2 linked regions of the Homo sapiens genome follow. The protein of the gene in region 2 interacts with the protein of the main gene of each other region in a pairwise test. Each region holds a gene or a part of one and is shown on either strand. Other genes may lie near its edges.

What was found.
Region 1: the proteins of PNRC1 (region 2) and POLR3F interact in binary tests that used the Homo sapiens proteins (3 or more experiments, as listed by UniProt).

The regions. Positions count from the first base shown.
Region 1 is NC_000020.11:18,477,390-18,484,389, reverse strand, and holds part of POLR3F (DNA-directed RNA polymerase III subunit RPC6), read right to left. Parts: intron 4,353-7,000; coding exon 4,209-4,352; intron 3,989-4,208; coding exon 3,881-3,988; intron 2,772-3,880; coding exon 2,580-2,771; intron 910-2,579; coding exon 832-909; 3' UTR 1-831. UniProt on the Homo sapiens protein: DNA-dependent RNA polymerase catalyzes the transcription of DNA into RNA using the four ribonucleoside triphosphates as substrates.
Region 2 is NC_000006.12:89,075,889-89,083,782, reverse strand, and holds the start of PNRC1 (proline-rich nuclear receptor coactivator 1), read right to left. Parts: upstream 3,033-7,894; 5' UTR 2,889-3,032; coding exon 2,349-2,888; intron 1,233-2,348; coding exon of another isoform or gene 1,206-1,232; exon of another isoform or gene 1,048-1,205; intron 31-1,047; coding exon 1-30. UniProt on the Homo sapiens protein: Nuclear receptor coactivator. May play a role in signal transduction.

The sequences.
Region 1 (7,000 bases), on a different chromosome or scaffold from region 2:
TGGAAATGAGATTTCAACATTAGAATTCTGGGGGCACACAAACATTCAGTCTACTGCAGACATTAAATAAGAATCTAGGGTAAATTCTAACAAAGAATACATTTGAGTTAAAGAGTGAAACATAAGACTTTAAGAAAGAAGGAACAGTGAAAATATTCTTTAGAATGAAAATGATAGTATTTATGTACTGAAAATATGTCCTTGACAGTAGTCATTGGGTTTGAAGTAAGTATGGTAGCATAATCTCCTAAAAGAACATTTCTGATACAAAAAGGAATTAATATTGTGCGGAAAAGGCATGTTCCACTCTCCCCCAGTCATACCCCAAGTTTGCACTCTTTGCTATTCCTGCCTTTAACCCCTTCTAATTTCTTTTCAATGAAACCACTGAGAAAGTAGGAAACAGAAAATGGTGGTAGTGAACCAGATATAAAAAAAAACTTCCAATGAAGAACTTAATAAATAACTTTAAAAAGAACATTTTTATACTCTAGCCATTATCATAGTACTTGGTAAATACGGGTATGTTGGCATCTTTTTCCTTGACCCATCAGAAGTCTTGAAAGATGTGGTCCTCCGGAGTTTCAAAGTGTTTTATTTATTGAAGAATGAATTTCACTACTAACCTTATTTCTTTCATATTCTACTGGCTATTTTACCAATATAAATTTAGTCTTCATAAATAAAAAAAATATGTTTTCATAGCAGCAAGTCTACGTCCATTATTGTGAAGTTTGCTTTCAAGGAGATTTCGTGTTCCATCATGAATTAAATTATCTGCTCCCTAAGTAACTTCATTTGCAAAATGTCAATAAAGTTCATAGCTCTCTATTAAAATTCGAGCCACTCTGTCATGTAAATACAGTTAGATGGTGAAATCTCACCACCTTCGTGGCAGTCATCAAAAACCTTTAAAAAAGAAAAAAAAATTATATTCAAATTAAAGTTTTAAAATATCTAAGACCCAACCACTTATTTAAAGCAAGATTAAAAACAAAACTTTCAAACTGAAAGGGACTAGGACTGTACTTAAGAACATATTATAGCCGGACGCAGTGGCTCACACCTGTAATCCCAGCACTTTGGGAGGCCGAGGTGGGTGGTCAAGACCATCCTGGCTAACATGGTGAAACCCCGTCTCTACTAAGAATACAAAAATTAGCTGAGCGTGGTGGCAGGCACCTGTAATCCCAGCTACTCGGGAGGCTGAGGCAGGAGAATTGCTTGAACCTGGGAGGCAGAGGTTGTAGTGAGCCAAGATCGTGCCACTGCACTCCAGCCTGGGCGACAGCAAGACTCCATCTCGGGGGGCGAGGGGGGAGCGGGAAGAACATACTATAATAGGGCCTGCTTTGTGATCATCAAGTTAGGAGTAGTAGAGAGGCTTTTTTTACTGTGGCATTAAGATGACCATGCTCACCTGTCTGCTGGGCAAAAGGCTATCACCAGGTAACACAGGAATATGGGCAGGGAGACCTATACATATGAATGACTTAATTTTGATTAACCAAATGTTTCATGTTTAGCTACCTTTTTGTGAAGGGTGCAAAACAGAATTCCTAATATGTTAGCCTTTTGTCTAGGGACTGAAACCAAGGCATAGAGAGCTTAGGCATATAGACAAAGGTTGGTATAATGAAATAAAACACACACAGGCTCATCTATAAATGCCATGAGGACTGGGACAGTGTCTCTTGCTTTCTCTTGTATCCTTAGTGCCTAGAGCATAGAGTTGGCACTTACAATATTTGGGAATGAATGAAGGAGGAGTGCTGGGGCATGCTGCAGGGGAAAGACATGATCTCTGGGTTTGAATCCCGGTTACTTCTAAGCTGTATGCCCCTATGTCTTCCTAAGCCTAAGCTCCCTCACTTTTAAGGGGAAATAACACCACTAGCTTCAAGAATGTAAGGAGGATTAAATGAGACCGCCTATGGAAATCATCAAGGACATATCTGGCCCAAGGTAGGTTCTCAACAAATCTCATTTTCTGCCCTATTTAGGTGAAATGATTAGCCCTCATCAAAAAGTGTCCATTTCAAGGCCAAGAGCAGAAAACGTAAATATCCTTAATGTGGTTGTTCCAAGAAAGAATGTAAAGCAGGGGGCCAGGTACAGGGGCACATGCCTGTAATCTCAGCACTTTGGGAGGCTGAGGGGATCACCTGAGGTCAGGAGTTCGAGACCAGCCTGGCCAACATGGTGAAACCCCGTCTCCACTAAAAATAAAAAAAATTAGCTGGGCATGGTGGTGGGTGCCTATAATCTCAGGTACTCAGGTGGCTGAGGCAGGAGAGCTGCTTGAACCCGGGAGTTGGAGGTTGCAATGAGTCAAGATTGTGCCACTGCACTCCAGCCTCGGTGATAGAGTGAGACTCCGTCTCAAAAAAAAAAAAAAAAAAAAAAGTAAAGGAATGATGTGTTCATTAAAGGTCTGTTCATCAAGGTTTCATGGAGGTTTGAATAGCTCTTGGTCAACCCTAAGAGTCTGAGAAAACTGGGCTGTGCTTGCTCTGTTTCTTAATGTGGCACTTGCACCCGTGGGCAGTCAAGTGTAAAGTGAAGCCACTTTAACTCACCGGGCAGAGTCCACAGGGTGCCCGGACCAAACCTGTGGGAGGGATGATTGGATTGACTGCCCTGTACAGTTTCATGTGTCCATCTACACTGCCAACTGTGCCTTCTTTTGCAGCAATAATCGTCATCTCCACTTTTCCATCATAAATGAGTGTATTCAGGATGGTTTCAATGTCTTCCATGGATAACTCTACCTAAAAAAGGGATACATCAGAAAGGACACAAGTAGGATAGGGAGACATCCACTTGGAGGGTGTTAAAAACAGTAAAGGGTTGCTGGGCGCAGTGGCTCACGCCTGTAATCCCAGCACTTTGGGAAGCCGAGGCAGGTGGATCACTTGAGGTCAGGAGTTCGAGACCAGCCTGGCCAACATGGCAAAACCCTGTCTCTACTAAAAATACAATTAGCTGGGTATGGTGGCAGGCACTTGTAATCCCACCTACTCGGGAGGCTGAGGCAGGAGAATGGCTTGAACCCGGGAGACGGAAGTTGCAGTGAGCTGAGATCGCACTACTGTACTCCAGCCTGGGCAACAAGAGCCAAACTCCATCTCAAATAAATAAATAAAACAGTAAAGGGTCATAATTCTGCTGTGAAATGGGAGAAACATTATGCTGGGGTGGAGTAATTTAAAGCACAAAGAGGAGGAACAATAGGCCAAGTTAGCACAAACCACTGAGGTGCCAGGGACAGAACTCTAAGCTCATGCTGAGTTTGACACTTTCTGGTATCTTTACTTCCTAAGTAAAATCGAGAAATCTTATAAAAAATAACATTTCTTTAGCAGGAATTTATTGGAGATTTATAAAATGCTTGAGCAGAAAGGCACTTTAGACATCAAATAGTCCAAGTTCCTAGTTTTTATGAGAAATCTGAGGCCCAGGAAATTAAAGTGACATGTCCAAAATGGCCACTTTGATTTCTTCACTGTGAAAAGCATCAGTGTCCTTAAAAAAAGAATTTCAAAAGGCTAGGGTACAGTGGCACTTTGGGAGGCCAACGCAGGAGGATCACTTGAGTCCAGAAGTTCAAAACCAGCCTGGGCAACAAAATGAGACCCTACCTCCAAAAAAATAAAAAAAGCATCAGTGTCCCAAGCTGAGTATCAGTTCAGACAATGCCCAATGGCAGTGACTGCCTTTGCCTAAGATACAGGACAGTATTTTCCCAAAGTGGATTCTGCAGAATGTTCGTAGCTATCATCTCAAAAAAAAAAAACAATGTGGGTCAAATACATGTTTGGAATACATTGTATGTGACAAAGAATAAGTTTTAAAAAATAAGATGAAATTCAGTTCTGACCTTACTGATTCCCAATTCGCAGATATATTTCCACACTTCATGTGATGAGGCAAATGAACTATTTCTTTGTATCATTGGGTTCTGTTTGCTTTCTCGTGCTGTTTCTGCCTATAAGGATTGAAACATAAGAAATGTAAATAAGAATATTGGTGTGTTTTCTGAATACACTTTATACTGAGTCAAACCAACAACAGAACATATTTAGTTAAGTAAAAATTCCCAATTTCAGGTTTTTAATTCCTATAAAATATGATAAATAGATTAAAATCCTTTGTGAAAAACTTTTTACAAGAGGGTTTGCAGTGATGTTTCCTCAATCATACCTCACCTTGGACTGTAGGAATTTAAAACACTGTTGGTTAAGCACCTCTACAAATTCAGATTCAAAATCCTGGTCACTGTACCAGGCTCCACCAGTCACAGACCGGTCTGGCTGCAGGTTATAGAGCATATACACCTTCTTTTTTGAGGCCTAGGAAAGAACATGCACAGTTCATGTGTTTATAAGATAACAATTTCCAAAAACAAAAACACCTATATTTTGGAACAGTTTAAGATGTACAAAATTATTGCAAAGATAGTACACAGAGCTCCTATATACATCATGCTGTTTCCCCTATTTTTAACATCTTGGATTAGTGTGGTACACTTGTCACAATTAATGAACTAATATTGATAAATCATTACTAACTAAATGCCATACTTTATTCAGATTTCATTAGTCCTAATGTTCCTTTTCTGCTCCAGGATTCCATCCAGGACATCATACTACATTTAGTCATCTCTCTCAGGCTTCTTTTAGTTGTGACAGTTTCTCAAACACCGTATTTCTATCACTATGGACTCATGAGTATTTATTTTATACTTTGATTTACATTCAGATACTTCATTGTTATTCCCACACTGGAAGCTTTGGAATGCTTTGGGCATTGGAAGCTTTTCACTTGGTTCCTGTATCCCTTTGCTATGCTCCCATCGTGTGTGTGTGTATTTTAGCACTTTTTTTTTTCTTTTGGAGACAGGGTCTTGCACTGTCGCCCAGGCTGGCGTGCACTGGTGCAATCTTGGTTCACTGCAACCTCTGCCTCTTGGGTTCAAGTGATTCTCCTGCCTCAGCCTCCCGAGTAGCTGGGGCTACAGGCATGTGCCACCATGCCCAGCTAATTTTTGTATTTTTAGCAGAGACGGGGGTGTCACCATGTTGGCCAGGATGGTCTCGATCTCTTGACCTCGTGATCCTCCCGCCTCAGCCTCCCAAAGTGCTGGGATTACAGGCATGAGCCCCCGTGTCCAGCTATTGTAGCACTTTCTTACTTTCTAGCACTACAAGATGTCAAGAGCATTTTCTTTTCTTTTTTTTTTTGAAACGGAGTTTCGCTCTTGTTGCCAGGCTGGAGTGCAATGGCACACGATCTCAGCTTACTGCAACCTCCACCTCCCAGGTTCAAGCGATTCTCCTGTCTCAGCCTCCCGAGTAGCTGGGATTACAGGCGCCCGTCACTATGCCCAGCTAATTTTTTTGTATTTTCAGTAGAGATGGGGTTTCACCATGTTGGCCAAGCTGGTCTCTAATTCCTGACCTCAGGTGATCCACCCTCCTTGGCCTCCCAAAGTGCTGGGATTACAGGCATGAACCACCCTGCCCAGCCGTCAGGAGCATTTTCTACATGTTCATTTTATTGCATGATAGAAACCACGACTTGGGCACTAGATGTGTTCATTGCCATCGGGATGTCATCACTTCTAGGCCTTCTCAGTTGGCAGCACGAGATTTATGTGCGCATATTAACCCTTGTATATATACATAGCTATACTCAATATTTCTAAATATAACCATCTATATTATTTATATTAAATTACACAAGAGTCCATACTGATGTTTTCAAGTCTAATCCATTACTACATGGATCATTCTAACTTTCCTTGTTTGTCTGTAACTACTCACCCCAACACTGAGGAACCCAAATTTCACTGGGTTGTAAACATGAAGAATTTGGGCCAGGCATGGTGGCTTATGCCTGTAATCCCAGCACTTTGGGAGGCTGAGGTGGGCAGATCTTTAAGTCTAGGAGTTCAAGACAGGCCTGGGTAACATAGTAAAACCCTGTCTCTACAAAAATACAAAAATTAGCTGAGCATGGTGGCACGTGCCTATAGTCCCAGCTACTTGGAAGGCTGTGGTGGGAGGATGGCTTGAGCCCAGGAGGTTGATGCTGCAGTGAGCTGTGATTGTGCCACTGCACTCCAGTCTGGGTGACAGAGCCAGACCATGTCTCAAAAAAAAAAAAAAAGAAAAAAATTTGGCTAGACTTTGTCCCTTTTTCCTAGGAAATAACTTCTACATCTTTGGAATTTCCCAATAGGCCTTGTTATTCATGGTGAATCCCTTAGATCACACCTGGGTTTATGCTAACAAGGTGACTCCTGATAGGACTCTAAATAGTTTCAGGATAGGAGTTGTCCATGCTGGAAAGACCAACCGCATGATTAGAGGGTTGGGGCTTTGGGCCACATGACATCAGTCCAATCTCTTGGGAGAAGAGAGGAGCTGGAGATTGAATTCACTCACATGACCAAGGATTCAATCAATCATGCCTGTATAATGAAACCCTAATAAAAACTTTGGACAGCAAAGCTTGGGTGGGCTTCCAAATTTGGTTAATGCTTCTGTCATACAAAATAATTTCACCACCCTAGAAATATTTCTCATGCTTCACCTATTCAACTTTCCCTACCATCCCTGCCCTCACCCCGATCTTTTTAGTCTGTCTAGTTTTGCCTTTTCCAGTATGTCATATAGTTGTAATCATACAGTATGTAGCCTTTTCGGACTGGCTTCTTTTACTTAGCAATATGCATTTAAGATTTACTCATATCTTTTCATGATAGCTTATTTCTTTTTATAACTGAATACTATTCTGGTTTGTCTATCCATTCACCTATTGAAGGATACCTTGGTTGCTTCCAGTTTTTGATTATGAATAAAGCTGCTGATTACGAATAAAGCTGCTATAAATATTCATGTAGTTATGTGGACATGAGTTTTCAAATCAGTTGGGTAAATACTTAAGAGCTTGACCTTTGGACAATGTGGTAAGACTCTGTTTAGTTTTGTAAAAA
Region 2 (7,894 bases):
CTCCGATTTTCCCATCTTTGATTTTAAAACCTACAAAGACAAGAACACAAAAGTAAATATAGTTTCTAGATAAAAATCAGTTATGAACCTCATATCACATATCTAGTTTTGTTGTGTTTAAGTTTGCCCACAGCCATAGAAAAGAACAAAATTATGTTCTTTGTGACAACACGTATGTAGCTGGGGGCCATTACCCTAGACGAATTAATGCAGAAACAGAAAACCAAATATCGCAAGTTCTCACTTACAAGTGAATTTGGGAGCTAAACACTGGGTACAACATGGATATAGTGGGGAACAACAACAGACACTAGGCACTACTAGAAGGGGGGTTGAGAGAGAGATGGGGACCTACTGGGTACTATGCTCACTACCTGGAATGGGATCATTCATACTCCAAACCTCAGCATCACGAAATATACCCATGTAGCAAACCTGCACAAGTACCTCCTTGATCTAAAATAAAAGCTGAAAATTACAAAAACTTTAATTGGGCATGGTGGCTCACGCCTGTAATCCCAGCACTTTGGGAGGTCAAGGCAAGCAGATCGCTCAAGCTCAAGGAGTTCGAGACCAGCCTGGGCAACATAGCGAAACCCCATGTCTACTACAAATATAAAAATCAGCCCGGCGTGGTAACACGCGCCTCGGGAGGCTGGCTGAGGCGGGATCCCTTCAGCCTGGGAAGGGGAGGATGCAGTGAGCAGAGATCGATCGTGCCACTGCATTCCAGCCTGGAGTGCGATAGAGGCAGACTCTGTCTCAAGAAAAAAAAAACAACAAAAAACTTAAATTTCCCTTGACTTTTAAGTTCACTCTTGTTCGCCACTAAAAATGCAGTTAATCACCACTGCTAGTTACCAGTATGCAACGTGAACCAGTTCTAAAATGTCAAACTAAAAAAAGTCTGAAATAACCCAAGTCCACCTTTCTACAACTGTAAGGAAGACTAATGAGCTCTCTTCCAAATACGAGTGCCAGAAACAATCTTTGCTGTGTACCTCCTTTCTGGTTTAGTAACTGCTTCAAGAACGCTGCTTCACTCACCTTAATCTTTCCCAACTTAAGTGGGCCTTATAGGAAGTCTTGAAAGGATGGAAAAGCGTAAGGTAATCCACTAGATCACTGCACTACCAACACTTGTAACGCGGTAGTAAGCAAGACACGACACGAAAGAGGACCACAACTTTCCACGTCAATAAGGTTCACTGCCAGAGCTCCCTAGTTAGTACCTGTTCTAGAAAACAGGCCAGGAAACAAGCACAAAAGCTTTTAGGTAATCACGGATATTTCAAAAGTCGTGGAATTTTAAAAGGGAGACATTGAGACGATAATTTAAAGAAACAAGGTGGGCAAATTTTTTCCCAAGGGCACAGATAAACCGCAAATCTCTAATTCAATGCAACATTCTTCACTAAATAACGGGAACTTTTTCATTTCATTATTACGAAGATTAAGTCATTGAACTTAAGTCCATAAAACGTTATTCTGACAAGACTTTGAAATCATTTCGTAGACTTAATCCTATTTAAACTTCTATCCATTTTATCCTAATGCAATAGCACTGCAATCAGACGGGCTAAGTCAATTCAATTGCTAACTCTTCTGAAAACTTACTCTGGACACACTAACACGAAGTACCACAGTGGCAAAAGTAATAAAATCAGTTTTGTGCGGCTCCTGCCAACTCTTAACTTGGAACCACTAAGTAGGTCAGGCCCGAGGCGGGCAGAGCCCCAACTGGACTGCGCGTCCCACACCGGGCACCTCACATTTTGGCACAACTCCAACCAAACGAAACCCAGCCGCTCGGAGCCCACTCCACCCCCTACGGCGGGACGTTAGAGGCCGTCTCCGCGTTTCACCGACTAGGACTGGGGCTCCCGATAGCCGGGAGGCCGAAAGCCGGGCCCAGTCCTTCCCCAGCTGCCCCCACCCGGCCTCGCCTCCTTCATGGGCGCCGGAGCGCCGGGCACGTAGCGCGCGCTGACGTCAGCCCTCCCGCGGGCCCTGTCCCTGCCCCCACCCCGCCGCGCGCCCGGAACGCCGAAACCCCCTGGAACGCCGCCAGCCTTCTAAATCGGGGCTGTTGCTGGGGCGCAGCGGCGCTTCTCATTGGCCGACTCCTGGGAGCCAATCAGAAGCGCCAGCGCATGCCTCCCCTTCCCCCTTCTTCCCCCAAAGCAAGAATGGAGCGGGCGTCACGGAAACTTCCCTCCCGAGTAAACAGCCGCCCCCCCCACCCCGCCCCCACCCGCCCGACCCCCCGGGTGCAGGGTCTGCAGCCCCAGAGCTCGGCCGCGACCGTCTAAGGGCCCGACTCCCCAACGGCCCCCTGGCGGCCTCACCTCTTTCCTGAGGGGGGTTTGGCCGGGAGCCGCGGGCCGCAGCGGGGCAAGGTCGGGGCTGGCTCCCTCCGTGCCGGCTGCGGCTGCAGGACTCGGGGCCAAGGCGGCGGCCGGGCCCGGGACCTCCTGCGCTCCGCTCGGGCCGGTCGCGGGGCTCCGGCCGCCCTCCAGACTCGGCCGGTGCTGCTGGTACTGGTGGAAGCGGCTGGGCAGCTGCCCTGCGGGGCTGGCCCGCACCTTCTTCTTTCGCCGCTTCTTCGGCGCTGCCCGAGGAGTGCCTCCCGCCACGGCGAGGCTGCGGTTGGGCAGAGCTGCTGGAGCGCGAGGCTGGGGGGTCAGACACGGGCCATCTCCCCCTAGGAAATGAGGGAGGAAGAGGGTCGGGGGCAGTGCCCGGGGGTCCGGGATCCGGGGTAAAGGAGGCGGAGCCGTGGTCACCATCGGGAGGGCCCCAAAGTAACCTCGGGAGGAAAAGCCAAGCGGCGCAAGGCGGCCACCCAGGACGAGCGGCTCCCGCTGCGGGACGGAGACGACAGTCATAGCGCTAGGAAGCTTGTCGCTCAGCAACGAAGAGAGAAGGAGAAGGTGAATGAAGCCAGTGAAGATAGGGTGGCGGCGATGGATGCTGCTAGGAGAGCCTGAGAAGATCGCGGAACATGACTCGGGCGGTGGCGGCGCAGCAACAAATAGCCACAGCCCCAGCTCCGAGTGTTGTTATCGGAAGCTCCGCCCCGCGCCCGCCCACTTTCCTGCGAAAGCCCAATTAGAGTGCGACAAGGCAGGCCACGCCCCCTCGCTCCGCCTCCGCAGCTTCGGGTAGACACACACAAACAACCAGCTTGCTGCAGCCTGGCACAAAGAGGGCGCACTGCGCAGGCGCTGCCAGCGAGCTCTTTTGGGAAGAATCGGTCCCGCGAACAATGAAATTGGGTTTCCGCCCCACCCTCTTTACTCCTCCCCAGCACGCCCCTGCGCTTCGCCGGGCTAGGGAGTGGTGGTACTGAAATGTCCCGGCGGAGTTTGTTGATGGGGGTGGGGAAGGGAGGGGGCAGGGGGAGGGCGGCAGGAAGAACGGGGGCTGGGAAGAGGGGATGACTTTGGCAAGGCCACGGTTGCCTCCTCCGCTGCTGACCTTGGGGAAGTATCCGTTTTATTTTCAGCCCAACATAACAGCGTTATCATTTTAAAACAAAGATTTCTAAGTACGCTGTAAGGATTTCTTCCCTAGCAATCGTGAAGAAAATCAGTCTACATTTAAATTTTATCTACTGAAGTATGGCTCACGATTCTTTCATTTACTTGGTTCGGCATCGCTGCTTATTAGTCTCGGTGATCAGAGTAAAAATCAAAGTGACTTACTGATTGAATTAGCCCCTCGATGTATAAAAAGTTCTCCGTAAATCCATAAATGGAAGTTGGAGTTTTTACTGATTTCATACTTGAAGGATTGTGAGACTTTGGGATCAGAACATTGTGCCTGGTTACTTGAGGAGGCGGCAAGCCGGCTTGCGTCTCAAAGGGAGAAAGTGAAACAGCTCTGCAACATAGAGTATTTTGTTAGCTGCGCGTAAATAGAAATTTTTCGCGATCTCCCCGCACTGCTCAACCACAAAAAAGAATTGTGGCCATAATTTATCAAGCATTTATGTTCCAGGAACTGTTCTTTACATAGATTGTCTCACTTTAACCTCACAACAACCCTTACGAATAGGTACTAAGAAAAATAGATCAGACCTCAGCTCTGCGAAGTAGGCAGGCTGTCATTCTCTTCCTTTCACTACTAATGCCTGGGGCAATTGTTTAAAGGCATTTTGTTCCTGATTAGCTGCCTACGCATTATCTTTAAGTTTCTGAAATTTAAGATACAAAGAACAATGTATAGCTAGTCAAGAGCCCACGATATTTTAATGTAAATTGGTAAACAATTTAGGAGCTGCCTCTTTTCCTTTAAAAACCTACTTGTAACTTGCTAATCCGAGTGTATATTCAGGGCAGCTTGAATCTATGGTCCTGGGTTGCAGTCCTCAAGCTTGGCCTGATTTTGCCTCAGCTTCTTTTTGGAGGGACAGTACTGTATTTTATTCCCATTTTACAGCTGGGGAAACAGGCTTAGAAAGGCTAAAGGACTTGTCAAAGATCAAACGGTAAGTTAACATCAGAATTTGATCTCCAGTCCAGGTACTGCAAGACAAAAGTTTTAATTTTTTTTTTTTTTTTTTTGAGACGGCGTGTCACTCTGTGGCCAGGCTGCAGTGCAGTGGCGCCATCTCGGCTTACTGCAACCTCCGTCTCCCTGGTTCAAGAGATTCTCCTGCCTCAGCCTCCCTAGTAGCTGGGATTACAGGCACCCGCCACGCCCAGCTAATTTCTGTATTTTTTAGTAGAGACGGGGTTTCACCTTGTTGGCCAGGATGGTCTTGATCTCCTGACCTCGTGATCCGCCTGCCTCGGCCTTCCAAAGTGCTGGGATTACAGGCGTGAGCCACCGCGTCCAGCCCTGCCACACTAGATTCTACATTATTAGAAGACCACAGTAATCTTACACTTCTGTATCCTCACCGCCTCTACAATAGTTTTCAGCTTTGGAGTAGTAAGCAATTAGTAAGCAATGAAACGTTTTATGATTGATGGCAAAGTTGGACAGATTGCATATCCAGAAAAATGCTTCCCAATCACTTTATAAACTTTTTTTTTTTTTTAGACGGGGTTTCTTTCTGACACTCAGATTGGAGTGCAATGGCATGATCTCGGATTACAGCAACAGCCGCCTCCCAGGCTCAAGAGATCCTCCAACCCCAGCCCCCCACGCCCCTGAGTAGCTGGGACCACAGGCACACACCACCACTCCTGGCTAATTTTTTGTGTTTTTAGTGGAGACAGGGTTTCACCATGTTGCCCAGGCCGGTCTCAAACTCCTGAGCTCAAGCCATCTGCCTGTCTCAGCCTCCCAAAGTGATGGGATTACAGGAGTGAGCCACCAAACCCAGTCAACCTTATAAGCTTTTAAAACTACATTTCAGGCCAGGCGTGGTGGCTCACACCTGTAATCCTAGCACTTTGGGAGGCCGAGGCGGCTGGATTACCTAAGGTCAGGAGTTTGAGACCAGCCTGGCCAACATGGCGAAACCCTGTCTCTACTAAAAATATAAAAATTAGCTGGGCATACAGGCTAATGTGCCTGTAATCCCAGCTACTAGGGGGGCTGAGGCAGGAGGATCGTTTAAACCTGGGAGGTAGAGGTTGCAGTGAGCCGAGATCATGCCACTGCACTCCAGCCTGGGCAACAGAGCAATACTCCATCTCAAAAAACAAAAAAGAAACCAAAAAAACTCCATTTCATTCCAATTGCTGAATTTTACTCATTTTTGTTTCTGCAACATGTAATGCATAGTAAGTGCTCATGTTCATTGGATGGATGGGAATCATGGACATCCAGAGCTGTAAAAGAATCTACTTTTTCAAAGCACTTTCCATCTGTCATCTCATTTTATTCTTACTCTAGCACTTTAAGGTTGATATAGAGAGGTCCTATTTAACGTATGGTGTAAATAAATTTAAATATATAGTAACTTGCTTGGGGGGGGGGGTTCACAAAATGAGGTAGGAATAACTCGAACTCCTGATGCCTAGTCCAGTGTTCTTTTCACTATATCCCATGATTTTAGGCTTGACTTTATCTGGGGATAATATCATACTGTCCTAGAGAATAATTTACCCTTCAGGGAGCTGGTCATTGGTAGCCAGCTCTGTGGGGCCCTTGGTCAAAGATACCTATTATTGTCTATGTGTATTTCTTGGGTGATTGTTGGAGTAATTATGTGTATAACTTATCATTTTGAGGCCTTAAGTGTAGGCTTCATGTTTGCCCTGGGTTCTGTACTGTAAGAAAAGTAACCTTGCAGCTGTGACCACCTGGGTGATGGGTGCTGAGATTGCTAAAATGGTGCCCACCACTAAGAAACAGAATGGGAGCTGAAATGGGGCACTTAGAAGAGAGAGGTCGAGGTTTTATAAGCCAGATGATTGGATTTAATGTTACTCTGTGTGGGTAGTCTTTGTAAACCCTTAGTCTTTAGTAAAGTCTAATTTTAATGTTTAAACCTAAGCGTTACAGGTTTAAACATATAGTGTTAGCTGTGCTATATGATATAAAGGAAAAAGATCAGGCTGGGTGCAGTGGCTCACGGATGGCAAGGTGGATGGATCACTTGAGGTCAGGAGTTGGAGACCAGCCTGGCCAACATGATGAAACCCTGTCTCTACTAAAAATACAAAAATTAGCCAGTTGTGGTGGTGCATGCCTGTAGTCCCAGCTACTTGGGAGGCTGAGGCAGAAGAATCACTTGAACCTGGGAGGTAGAGGTTGCAGTGAGCCGAGATCACGCCACTGCACTCTAGCCTGGGCGACAGAGCAAGACTTCATCTCAGGGAAAAAAAAAAAAAAAAAAAAAATCAGATCCTTTTGCTTGGGCCCAAAAGGCCAAACTTGGAGGTAACAAGATATTCCAAGGGTAAAGGAAATTTTAGGAGAATTCTCAGAGTTCTTGAAGCTTTTTGCTCCAGTGTACATCTTGATTTTATTTTTGTTAAGCTAATCTTTAGAGGAGGTTAGAAGAAAAATAAAAGATTGGAAAGTAAACTAGGTATTAAATAGCAGAAAAAAGAGGTAATGCCCATTTATGAAATAAGCAGCTTACCCGCATTGACACTAAGCAGAACTCCAAATTCCACTTCTCTCTCTTCTATCTACCTTTGTCTCTCGTGTATTTTACCTCTGTCCTCTTTCTCTCCCTCTCTCTGTATGAAATGTCATTTTCTTTCCTCCTACCCTGAATGTCTTTTTTCCTCTTTATATAGACTTTATTACCATTTTTTCTACCTATTATTACTTAGATTTTTTTTTCTTTTTCTTTTTTGAGACAGGGCTTCACTCTGTCACCCAGGCTGGAGTGCAGTGGTGCGATAACAACTCACTGCAGCCTCCACCTCTGGCGTTCAGGAGATTCTCACACCTCATCCTCCCTAGCTGGCGCATGCCACCATGTCTGCTAATTTGTGTGTGTGCGTGTTTGATAGAGACAGGGTTTTGCCATGTTGCCCAAGCTGGTCTCGAACTCCTGAGTTCAAGTGATCCAACCACTTTGGCCTCCCAAAGTGCTGGGATTACAGGCATGAGCCACCTCACCCAGCCTATTGCTTAGATCTGTAATGTCTAAGGTGTGAGGGACACCTGTGTGAAAAGAGGAACACTTAATCAAACTTCTATTTTGCTTTTTTTTTTTTTTTAGACGGTGTCTCACTCTGTTGCCCAGGCTGAAGTGTAGTAGTGTGATCTCAGCTCGGCTCACTGCAACCTCCACCTCCCAGGTTCAAGTGATTCTCCTGCCCCAGCCTCCTGAGTAGCTGGGATTACAGGTGCATGCCACCATGCCTGGCCAATTTTTGTATTTTTAGTAGAGATGGGGTTTCACCATGTTGGCCAGGCTGGTCTCAAACTCCTGACCTCAGGTGACTCGCCCGCCTCAGCTTCCCAAAGTGTTGGGATT